Regions from separate parts of the Homo sapiens genome. Here region 2 is linked to region 1. A link means that fine-mapping ties the variant in region 1 to the expression of a gene that starts in the linked region. Tissue or cell type: whole blood. Region 1 holds a variant in brackets; the other region holds the start of a gene. All regions are shown on one strand. Distances are from middle to middle.

Region 1 (5,224 bases):
GTTCTAGGATTACAGGCACTTACACATGAGCTACTGCACCTGGCCCTATTTATATATTTTTTTTTAATCCACCCATCTGCACACTGAGAGTGTGTGTGTGTATTTAATTATTTTTTATGCAGTTTCATGTTTTTAGATCTTAAGTTTAAATCTTTGGATTATTTAGCAATTTTTTTGGTTTAATGTGTTATATAAAAACCCTTATATAATGTGTTATATAAAAACTTTTATGTAAAAACCTGTATTTTTTCTGAACTATTATCCAATAGTACCATGATGTTTTCTTTCTTTTAGTTTGTGTACTTGTTTATTATAGTAGACTTTTTCCATGGTTCATTTATGAGCAGTTCTGTCCAAATCTGCTTTTCACCCAAAAAGTGTTGGTGAATTCTGCTTGACTGTCCACTCTCTTTTTACCTGGGAACTGTAAACTGTACCATAATATTAGAAATGGGTATATTCTCTTTGTAATAACATCTACACTATACTCTGTGATATGTAGTATGTACAAACTCACCTTCTGGAACCAGAATGTCTGATTGTGTCTGTTGCTTACCATCTGTGTGCCCTTGGACTTCTTTTTTCTCTCTCTCTCTTTTTCTTTTCTTTTTTTTTTTTTTTTTTTTTTTTGAGACAGAGTCTTGCTCTGTCACCAGGCTGGAGTGCAGTGGCGTGATCTCAGCTCACTGCAACCTCAACCTCCGCCTTTTGGGTTCAAGTGATTCATATGCCTCAGCTTTCCAAGTAGTTGGGATTACAGGCACGCACCACCACACCCAGCTAATTTTTGTATTTTTAGTAGAGATGGGGTTTCATCATGTTGGCCAGGATGGTCTCGATCTCCTGACCTCATGATCCACTTGCCTCAGCCTCCCAAAGTGCTGGGATTACAGGTGTGAGCCACTGCGCCCAGCTGCCCTTGGACTTCTGAACTTTTCTGTGGCTCAGTTTCCTTATCTGTAACAGGAGACTAGTTAGGATTGAATGAGTTAATGCTTGTAAGATGTATGAAATGGTTCCTGGTACATAGTCAAGGCTTTGTAAGTTTTAGAATTAGGATTATCCCCTTCTATGGCTTAAGAGAGAGAGGAAGAGGGCTGAAGCTATGGGAAGCTTGAGTATTTTGTGGGTCTTGGTTTCTGATTTAGAAATGAACTCAGTCTTGCTCAGAGACTGTGTTCCTAACCTCTAATGTTTTTGTCTCTCTATTTTTTCTTCAATTTAGTCCAAATTCTTCGGTATTTGAGAGATGTTTCTCAAAGTTTAAAAAAATTTTTTTAATTTTTTAATATAAAAAACTCCAAACATTAAACAAAAGCTGGAGGAATAACAATAAATCTCATTTACCCATCATCCAGTTTCATTTTTTTATGTTATTTTTATTCCATTTTTTTAGAATAGAGACGGAGTCTCACTATGTTGCCCAAGCTGGTCTTGAACTTCTGGGCTCAAGTGATCCTTCTGCTTCAGCCTCCCAAAGTGCTGGGTTTTGAAGGCATGAGTCACCATGCCCGGTCTATCATCCAGTTTTAATTGTTATTGTCTTATGGCCTTCATAGTTCTTGGTATGTTGGAAGGATTACTTGAGCCCAGCGGTTTGAGACCAGCCTGGATGATATAGAGAGACCCTATCTCAAAAAAAAAAGTTATTAGTATAAGGTTGAGAACTCTTCCCTAGTTTCCACGTAGATGGTGCTATTGTTCCTAGCACCTAGGAGAAGGAAGCTTTGTGGGTCTGTACCTATCCTTTCAGATTTCCTGTAGGTCATAAACCCAATACTTGAGCTATCATGATTTAAACACTTTTTCTTGCAACTGTAGCAGCTCATCAGGCTGTTATATCTATCTCATCCTCTTTATTTCTACTCTAATTGCCCTACTTGGACCTTCACTGCTTTTCATCTGAATTATTGCAACAGCAGCCTAATTGGCCTTCCTGTATTCAGACCTCTATATTCAGTCCACTCTTCGTACTGTCGAAAGTTTATTTTTTTTTAATATCACAAGCCTAATTATGGCACTCTGTTCTAGAAGCCAAGGAATTGCTCTCGGTTGCCTATGGAGTAAAATTCAAATGGTCTTTTTTTCCACAAGAACATGAGATGGCCCTTTTCAGCCCTTCACTAGAGTATCTTTCACTATATACCATAGTTCCTCAATTCTAACATGCCA[T/G]TGATTATAGACTATATATTATGATTATATGTCATTGATTTAGCAAAAGCTTTTGGGTCAGGGACCAAGAGGCACAATGGAACCTACGCATCAGTGATAAGATACATTGTGATTTCACAATTATGAAAATGTAGAGGCATATTAAATTATTCCTGTAATCACAGCAACAGTATTAAGGTAACAGCAATAAATGGATGGCATATTAACCTGCGTAATTATAGGAGATTTTTAGTAAGGTAATTATTTGCAGACATGGGCAAAGTTTAGGGAGCCAATAGGACATGGTATAGTATTCCCAGGCTGGCTTTAGGGTGGGTGGGGGACTGTTGCAACCGAATATCTAGGTATGAAGGCTGAGGGGAAGGAACTCTGCCAGAAACCAGAGAGAGAAGTGTACAGAGCAGGACTCTAGACAAAAGTTGCGGACTTCAGTAGAGAGAGTGAGTGAGCCATGGAAACATGGTAGGGAAGGGGCCAAAGGAATAAAGATCTCGAATACTTCACTCTCTCCCCACCCTCTTATCTCCAAGCTAGCTAAAGCCATCTCGAATCCAGAGGATAAACAAGTCCACCAATGCAGTTAAGCTTCCCAGGGCACAAAGCATTATGGAGAAGAATGGAGCACAGTGGGGAGGGAAGCCAAAGGCTAAATGGACAGTGTCAGGCACATCCTCCATTCGATTTACTCTCCATCTTATTTTATTTATTTATTTATTTATTTACTTATTTATTTATTTATTTATTCATTCGAGACAGAATCTCACTCTGTCTCCCAGGCTGGAGTACAGTGGCAAAATCTCGGCTCACTGCAATGTCTGCCTCCTGGGTTCAAGGGATTCTCCTCTCTCAGCCTCCTGAGCACCTGGGACTACAGGCGCATGCCACCACACCCGGCTAATTTTTTTTTCTTTTTTTTTTTAGTGGAGATGGGGTTTCACTGTGTTACCCAGGATGGTCTTGATCTCCTGACCTTGTGATCCGCCCACCTCAGCCTCCCAAAATCTGGGATTACAGGCGTGAGCCACCACACTCAGCCTACTCTTCATCTCAAATCACAGATTAAATCTCTACATACCTGAATATTTGCCCGCTTGCTGTTTATTTGGCCTTTGAGCTCAGCTTAATTTTCGCGTTCTCCATGAAGCCATCTCTGACTTGTTTAGTCAATTTGTCCTCTGATGTGTTCCCATAAAACGCCACTTAAAAGATTTAAACTTTAGATGGTCCAAAAGGAACCGTTGATGTCAGGACAACCATAAACCAAATTTTATCTCATGGGGAAATATGAGATTGGATGAGTGACAAAAGAGGCTTTGAAAATGTAGAACTGGGAGTGATACAAGGAAAGAAGAAAGTCCCAAGGAGAGCCATCCTCTTTGTTAGTGATGACACAATGAAGGAATACAGCACAGATGAAGATGAAGTTGATGGCCTAGAGAGGAAAGATGTTTTGCCTACTCTTGACCCAGAAGAAGAAGGAGGTGGAGGAGGTGGAGTGAAGGAAGAGGAGGAGAAAAATAGGATGTCTACAGAAGCAGAAAGACATTACCAACAGAGGAGGAGGAGGAAGAGGAGGAGAATGTCTGTATGAGCAGAAAGACAATATCAACAGAATAAGGCCAGGTGTGGTGGCTCACGCCTGTAATCCCAGCACTTTGGGAGGCTGAGGCTGGCGGATCACGAGGTCAAGAGATCGAGACCATCCTGGTCAACGTGGTGAAACCCCATCTCTACTAAAAATACAAAAATTAGCTGGGTGTGGTGGTGCGCCCCTGTAGTCCCAGCTACTTGGGAGGCTGAGGCGGAAGAATCGCTTGAACCCTGGAGGCAGAGGTTGCAGTGAGCTGAGATTGTGCCACTGCACTCCAGCCTGATGACAGAGTGAGACTCTGTCTCAAAAAAAAAAAAAAAAAAAACCCCAACAGAATAAATTGCAGACTGATTCCATTGTTCAGACAGATCAACCAGGGACAGTGGTATTCAGTTCATTTGGGAATCTCAATTTTGAAATGGAGGGAGACAGTGAAGTAATTATGGAAAGCAAACAAAATCTCGTCTCTTTTCTACTACAAAATGAAATGACTATCAAACTTCAAACCCTAAGGGTTTTATTTTTTTATACCAGGAACTTTCACATTCTCTGCTCAGTGAGACTTAATGCAATTATTTATATTTTAAATTACTTAAATAATCTGGAAAAGAGAAATGTTTCTTCATTCTTAGGCTCTATTCAGCAAAAGCCAAATCTGAAATTTGTACCATTTCTGCTGTGTGTTGAATTAGTGCTTTGGTTTAAAATGATCTTTTAAAAAAGTTAAGGATACCCTAGAGCTTCAATTGCCAATTTAAAAGTTAAATTATCAAGGTTGTCTTATTTGTGCATTTAAAAAAAAAAAATAGAGGCCAAGCGCAGTGGCTCATGTCTGTAATCCCAGCACTTTGGGAGGCCGAGGCAGGTGGATCACCAGAGGTCGCGAGTTCGAGACCAGGAGTTCGAGCCTGGCCAATGTAGCGAAACCCCGTCTCTACTAAAAATACAAACATTAGCCAGGCATGGTAGCAGGTGCCTGTAATCCCAGCTATTGGGGAGTCTGAGGCAGGAGAATAGCCTGAACCTGGGAGGCGGAGGTTGTAGTGAGCTGAGATCATGCCTCTGCACTATAGCCTGGGTGACAGAGTGAAACTCTGTTACAAAAAATAAATAAATAAAAATAGGTAAGTTGCTGATTAAGGCTAATTGGAGCTGATAATCCCACAATCTCAGATTTAAATGAGGATTTTTTTTTTCTCCTAGATTTTCTCATGTTATCCCTCATATTTATATATCTAACCATTAATTTCACACTAAGGGTGTTTTGCTGTATAATAAAAGGAGTAAGATGGGAAAAAAAGATTTAAGCTTTACACTTTCTTTTTTTTTTTTTTTTTTTTTTTTTGAGACGGAGTCTCGCTCTGTCGCCCAGGTGGGACTGCGGACTGCAGTGGCGCAATCTCGGCTCACTGCAAGCTCCGCTTCCCGGGTTCACGCCATTCTCCTGCCTCAGCCTCCCGA
Region 2 (5,224 bases), 26 kb before region 1:
TCAACAAGACTCACATCTTGTATAACTTTGTATCCTAAAGAACACTTGGTACAACACCCTGGATATATCAGGAGCTATTAATATTTACTAACTCAAAATATAGTCCTTCATCACTTTGCAGTTCCGCTCTGTGCTGCTGAAACAAAACTGCATAAACTCTGCAAAACTCAAGGGACCTAAATGTGACAGAAACCTCACAGAACTCCTTATTGTTTTATAGTTTACAGTCTCGTAGCCTTGCCCCTATTACCAGATGTAATGCTTTTTACTGACACTAGTGTAGTGGGGTAGGAACAGATCTAGACAAAAGTGGACATCAGAACCTGTCAAGGGGTTTAAAATGTATATTTTACATACTTATTCTTCATTAGTGTTATGTAATATTAATGTCCTAAAGTCAGTTAACTGTAGCAACAACTTATGAGTTTTTCAGTCAATTTAATTCCCAGGAACATAAATGAAAACTGGTGCCAATAAAAAAACAAGTAAGCAAGCAGAGAAGCTGCCTTGAATTTTGACAAGGTAAGGATAGTTTACACCAACGCAATGAAAAATAAGCCTTTGTGTAGTCTATAAGAGTTTTTGAAATAGTTTTATAAAAGTCTTTAAAAGTGCCGGGTGCTGTGGCTCACGCCTGTAATCCCAGCACTTTGGGAGGCTGAGGCGGGAGGATCACTTGAGGTCAGGAGTTTCAGACCAGCCTGGCCAACATGGTGGAACCCCGTCTCTACTAAAAATACAAAAATTAGCCAGGCACGGTTGTGCGCACCTGTAATCCCAGCTACTCAAGAGGCTGAAGCAGGAGAATCGCTTGAACCCGGAGGCGGAGGTTGCAGTGAGCCGAGATCACGCCACTGCACTCCAGCCTGGGCGACAAAGCAAGACTCCATCTCAAAAAAAAAAAAAAAAAAAAAAAAAAAAAAAAGTCTTTAAAAGTCAAAGCAAACTGGTAAACCATTAGCAAAACCACAAGCTACCATGAAAAGATACACAAAAGTATCTGGCAACCAAGGTCTAGAGCTGGTTCCAGAGTGTGAAAGGTTTTCTGATTGCTAATAAACCCCATTATGCACACAAGATATCTTCACTTAGCTGTGTCGTTTCTAAAAAGGCAACAGGGCCCAGAAGTTTCAGTGAGCCAGTCCTGGCAAACCCAAATTATGAAAAATATACCCTCTGCTTAAAGATTAACTACAAACCTACCCTGGGACCAGCTTGCTTCAGTTAAGTTTAAAATGGTGCCTAAATTGAAATGAAAGTCTGTAGCATAGATAAAGAGAAAAAAAAAGTCAAATGGAAAAGTAAATTTAAAAGTTTCTATTTCCAATAAACTGCGTCTCAGAAATCTTCCAGGAGATAAAGACTCGGAAGAACAGAGGGATTGAGACCCATTCGCATTCTCTGAGGCGTGCGCACTACGCGGAAAGGATGAATGAATGGAAGACGGGCGCGTGTGAAATGCAGCAGGTCCGGCCGGCAAGCCGACCGGCTACAGCGATCTGTAGGCCTCGCTCCTCCCCCTTCCCTCCTCCATGACAGCCCAGTCCCAAGCATGGAGGGGCGAGGACAATGTGATACCCCTTCTCACCACCACCATCCCTCATTCTACTTGGAGAGCTTCACCGTGACACACGAGTGTTCCTTCCCACCCCAGACCTTTCTCGCTTCCCCTGGCGCAAACACCGGCAACTCTCCGGCGCGCTGGATTAACAGACGCTCGCCCCTCTCAACTCCCCTAAGCGAGGTCGAAGCTCCTCCGCGCGTGCCGCGGCACCACTCCCGCCTAACCCACCCTCCGGCAACACTCGCCCACCAGCTCCCCAGTCCACCGGTCTAAGGAAGACGTGCGCGCGCCCCGCACCCGAGCCCCGGAGCTGGGGTTCTGCAGGGAGGGAAAGGCTGCTCCAGGGCTCCCTCCTCCATCTCACTCCAGGCCGGCTCGCCGCCCACCCTGCCTGCGGATCCCAGTACTCGCTGGGAGCCGGCCCTGCGCCTTCCTATCATGAAGACACCATCCTCGCATACCCAGCCCAGAACCCCAGCTACCCTCCACCCTGTAGACACCTCGCGGTTCCGCAGGAGGCGCCACGCCGCCCCTCCCCCACACCGCTCCCCCAGTTCTCGGGCCCCCACCAGAAAGTGTGCGCTACACGCCGCCTCGGCCATCCTCCGGGACGTCCCCACTTGTCCGCGGGAGGTCAGGTCCAACATGAAGGGGAAGGGGCGGCAAGGGGTACAGTGCGCGCCGGGAACGCCGTCCCGCGGAGTCCCCCAGTCAGAAGGAAGACGGAGCGCGGGGACCCGTGGGGGTGGGGGCCAAAGGCAATACTCACCGGTTCGACAGTCGCCATCTTAGATCGATCTGATCGCACAACCGCTCCAGAAGGGGGGGTAAGAGGAAAAAAATGAGATTCAAACCGGATTGGCCAGCTTCTGGCCACGTGACGGATATGTCCGTTTGGCCCTGGCGGCACCTGCGCAAGACTGCGGCTGCGTGAGTAACGAGAGGCTTCTGGGAAGTGGAGTCTCTCCCCCACCTTTTTTTTTTTTTTTTTTTTAAGGTAAAGAAATTTTTTTTAAAAAGGACTGGTCACGTGGCCGATGGGTAGGGTGCGCGGTTCTCAACGCGGCGGACACTCGCTTGCTGGAGGGTGGTTTCAGTCCTCTGCTCTTCCGCCTGGATAGCTGCGGTCACACTTACTGCCAGGCAAGCCTACTGTGCCCTTTGTCGCCCTGTCCTCCCATCTTCCCCGGAAGGTTGGGAACTGCAGGCTCAGCACACACAATAAGGCTTCATTTGCTTAGTTGAGGTCCCAGGACAAGTTGCCTGTGTGTTTATTTAGTTTTCTTTTGATCTCCCACCATTTTCTCTTAGTTTCAAAAAGAGGCGGCGATGCAGAGTCGTTTAGGCAATCAACCCTCCCACGTCCCCTGGCTCAGCTAATGCTGGTGGTCATTCGTTGCCATTTCTGCGAAAGGGGACGGACGGAACCGCCCGCAGTACCCGCTTGCCACCGGCTGGACGAGGGGGAGGGACGACAGCTTTTACTGTCCCAAATCCTGAGATTAAGACCTCAGGGCTAAATCTTGCGTGGCGGTAAAAATTATTTGGAAGTTCTGTGCAACCGTTCCAATATTCCGCTTTTACGTGCACGGAAATAGCCTAAGTCCAGATGCCAGCCAGGGAAGCCACTCCGGGCCCCGCTGACTAAGCCCTGGACTGATGGTCTGGAGTCTTTAGGCCGGGTCAACTATGACTCTTGACGTTGACTCATTCTCCTTAGGCGAGTGACTTAATCGCTCGGCGTCTCAGCTTTTTTATTTATGAACCAAAGGTGATGATACACTTACCTCACAAGGGTGTGCTTCGTAATGACTGTAACCGGCTTTGAAAATGCATCGGACTCTAGAAATGATTCATAATAAGCAACTGCGTGCCTTCCTAAAGATCAAGTGCTTCTGCTTTTTTTTTTTAGCAAAGTTTAAATTTTTTTCTGTTTACTTTGTTTGATTATGATGTACACCAGTGTAGTTTTAAATGTTCAGGACCATTTTTTTTCCTTTACAACTGCAGCTGCCCTCAATAGAGGCTTTAATGTTCATGAAATTATTGTTATGCTCACAACAATCACTGGCAATCAGAAATTTGTCCCCACACTGGCATCCTACATTTCCTTTCCCTCTAAGATACTGTGCTGTCATTTCTCAAGACCGTGTTTTTTGCACAGTTTGGCTACTAATAACAACAAATAGAGATGAAGAAATCTAGTAGACTCCTAAGGTTCTAATGAAGAAGACACTGTCTCATTACTATTTCCCATGCTTTTAAATAATGTTGACACCAGGAAAAGGAGTGTATGCAGGCTGCCTGTGCCTGTCTGCTTATAGTGTTAATGAGGTCCAGAGCTGTGTCATACCTATTATTGAGTACATAATGGATGCTTGAGTTGACTAACACATAATTGAGGCTGTATGAGAACTCAAAGCCATTGCCTGTTCATATGTTTTGGTTTACCTGAATATCAGAAGTGATTAATGAAAGCTTTTGTCTAGTGGGCTTAGCTCTACTAGGTTTTAAAGTAGATAGAATTAACAGGCCAGGCGCAGTGGCCCACGCCTGTAATCACAGCCCTTTGGGAGGCCAAGGCGGGCGGATCACCTGAGGTCAGGAGTTCGAGACCAGCCTGACCAACATGGTGAAACCCTGTCTCTACTAAAAATACAAAAATTAGCCAGGCATAGTGGCACCTGCCTGTAGTCTCAGCTACTCAGGAGGCTGAGGCAGGAGAATCACTTGAACCTGGGAGGTGGAGGTTGCAGTGAGCCAAGATCCCGCCACTGCACTCCAGTCTGGGCGACACAGTGAGACTCCATTTCCAAAAAAAAAAAAAAAATGATAATAAACGGATAAGTGGATTTCTACTTACAGAGACTATCTACTGTTACTTAGACTATCCAAAATAATTCTGTTGACCGCGTTGTTATTTTCTGCTGGTTAGAAGTGGTGTCAGGTTACCTTCTTTGAAGAGAAAAAGACAGCATAGATGTCCTATTTTCCCCTTCCCCACCCTTCCCCACCCTTCCTCTCCCTTCCCTACCCTTCCCCTCCCTTCCCTTCCCTTCTCTTCCCCTCCCCTCCCCTGTCCTCCCCTCCCCTCCCTCCCCTCCCCTCCCATTCTCTCTCTCTCTCTCTCTTCCTTCCTTCCTTCCTTCCTTCCTTCCTTCCTTCCTTTCTTTTTGTCTTTTCAGGGTGTTGCTCTGTTACCCAGGCTGGAGTGCAGTGGCATGATTATGGCTCACTGCAGCCTTGACCTTCTGGGTTCAAGGGGTCCTCCCACCTTAGCTTCCCAAGTAGCTAGGACTACAGGCATGGGCCACCATGCCTAGCTAATTTTTTTATATTTTGCAGAGACAGGAGCGTCTAGCTATGTTCCCCAGGCTGGTCTCAAACTCCTGGGCTCAAGCGGTCCCCCTACCTGGGCCTCCCAAAGTGCTGAGATTGCAGGCATGAGCCACCATTCCTGGCCAGATGTCCTATTTTCATGAAGCTGTTATATAACAGCAAAAAATCAATGAGATTGGCAAGAAAATACCTATAGGACTGAAAGCCAGTGATGTTCTTAAAACTTTTTTTAAACAACAGTTTCCATTTTTATTAAATTTTCTGTTAATCAAAAAACTCGGGCCGGGCACGGTGGCTCATGCCTGTAATCCCAGCACTTTG

What was found. PIP is the estimated chance that this variant, and not a neighbour inherited with it, causes the effect.
Region 2: it holds the start of EIF4E, and the variant in region 1 is fine-mapped to the expression of EIF4E in whole blood (INTERVAL, PIP 0.99).

The regions. Positions count from the first base shown.
Region 1 is chr4:98,952,534-98,957,757 of GRCh38, forward strand. It overlaps the pseudogene FAM177A1P1. Among named protein-coding and RNA genes, the nearest start is that of EIF4E, 26 kb to the left of the region's middle. The variant T/G (reference allele first, on the strand shown) is at 2,173.
Region 2 is chr4:98,926,762-98,931,985 of GRCh38, forward strand. EIF4E (eukaryotic translation initiation factor 4E) reads right to left here and starts at 2,372. Exons shown (of 7, transcript NM_001968.5): 1 at 2,334-2,372. The coding sequence starts at 2,351. RefSeq lists an enhancer at 2,766-3,965.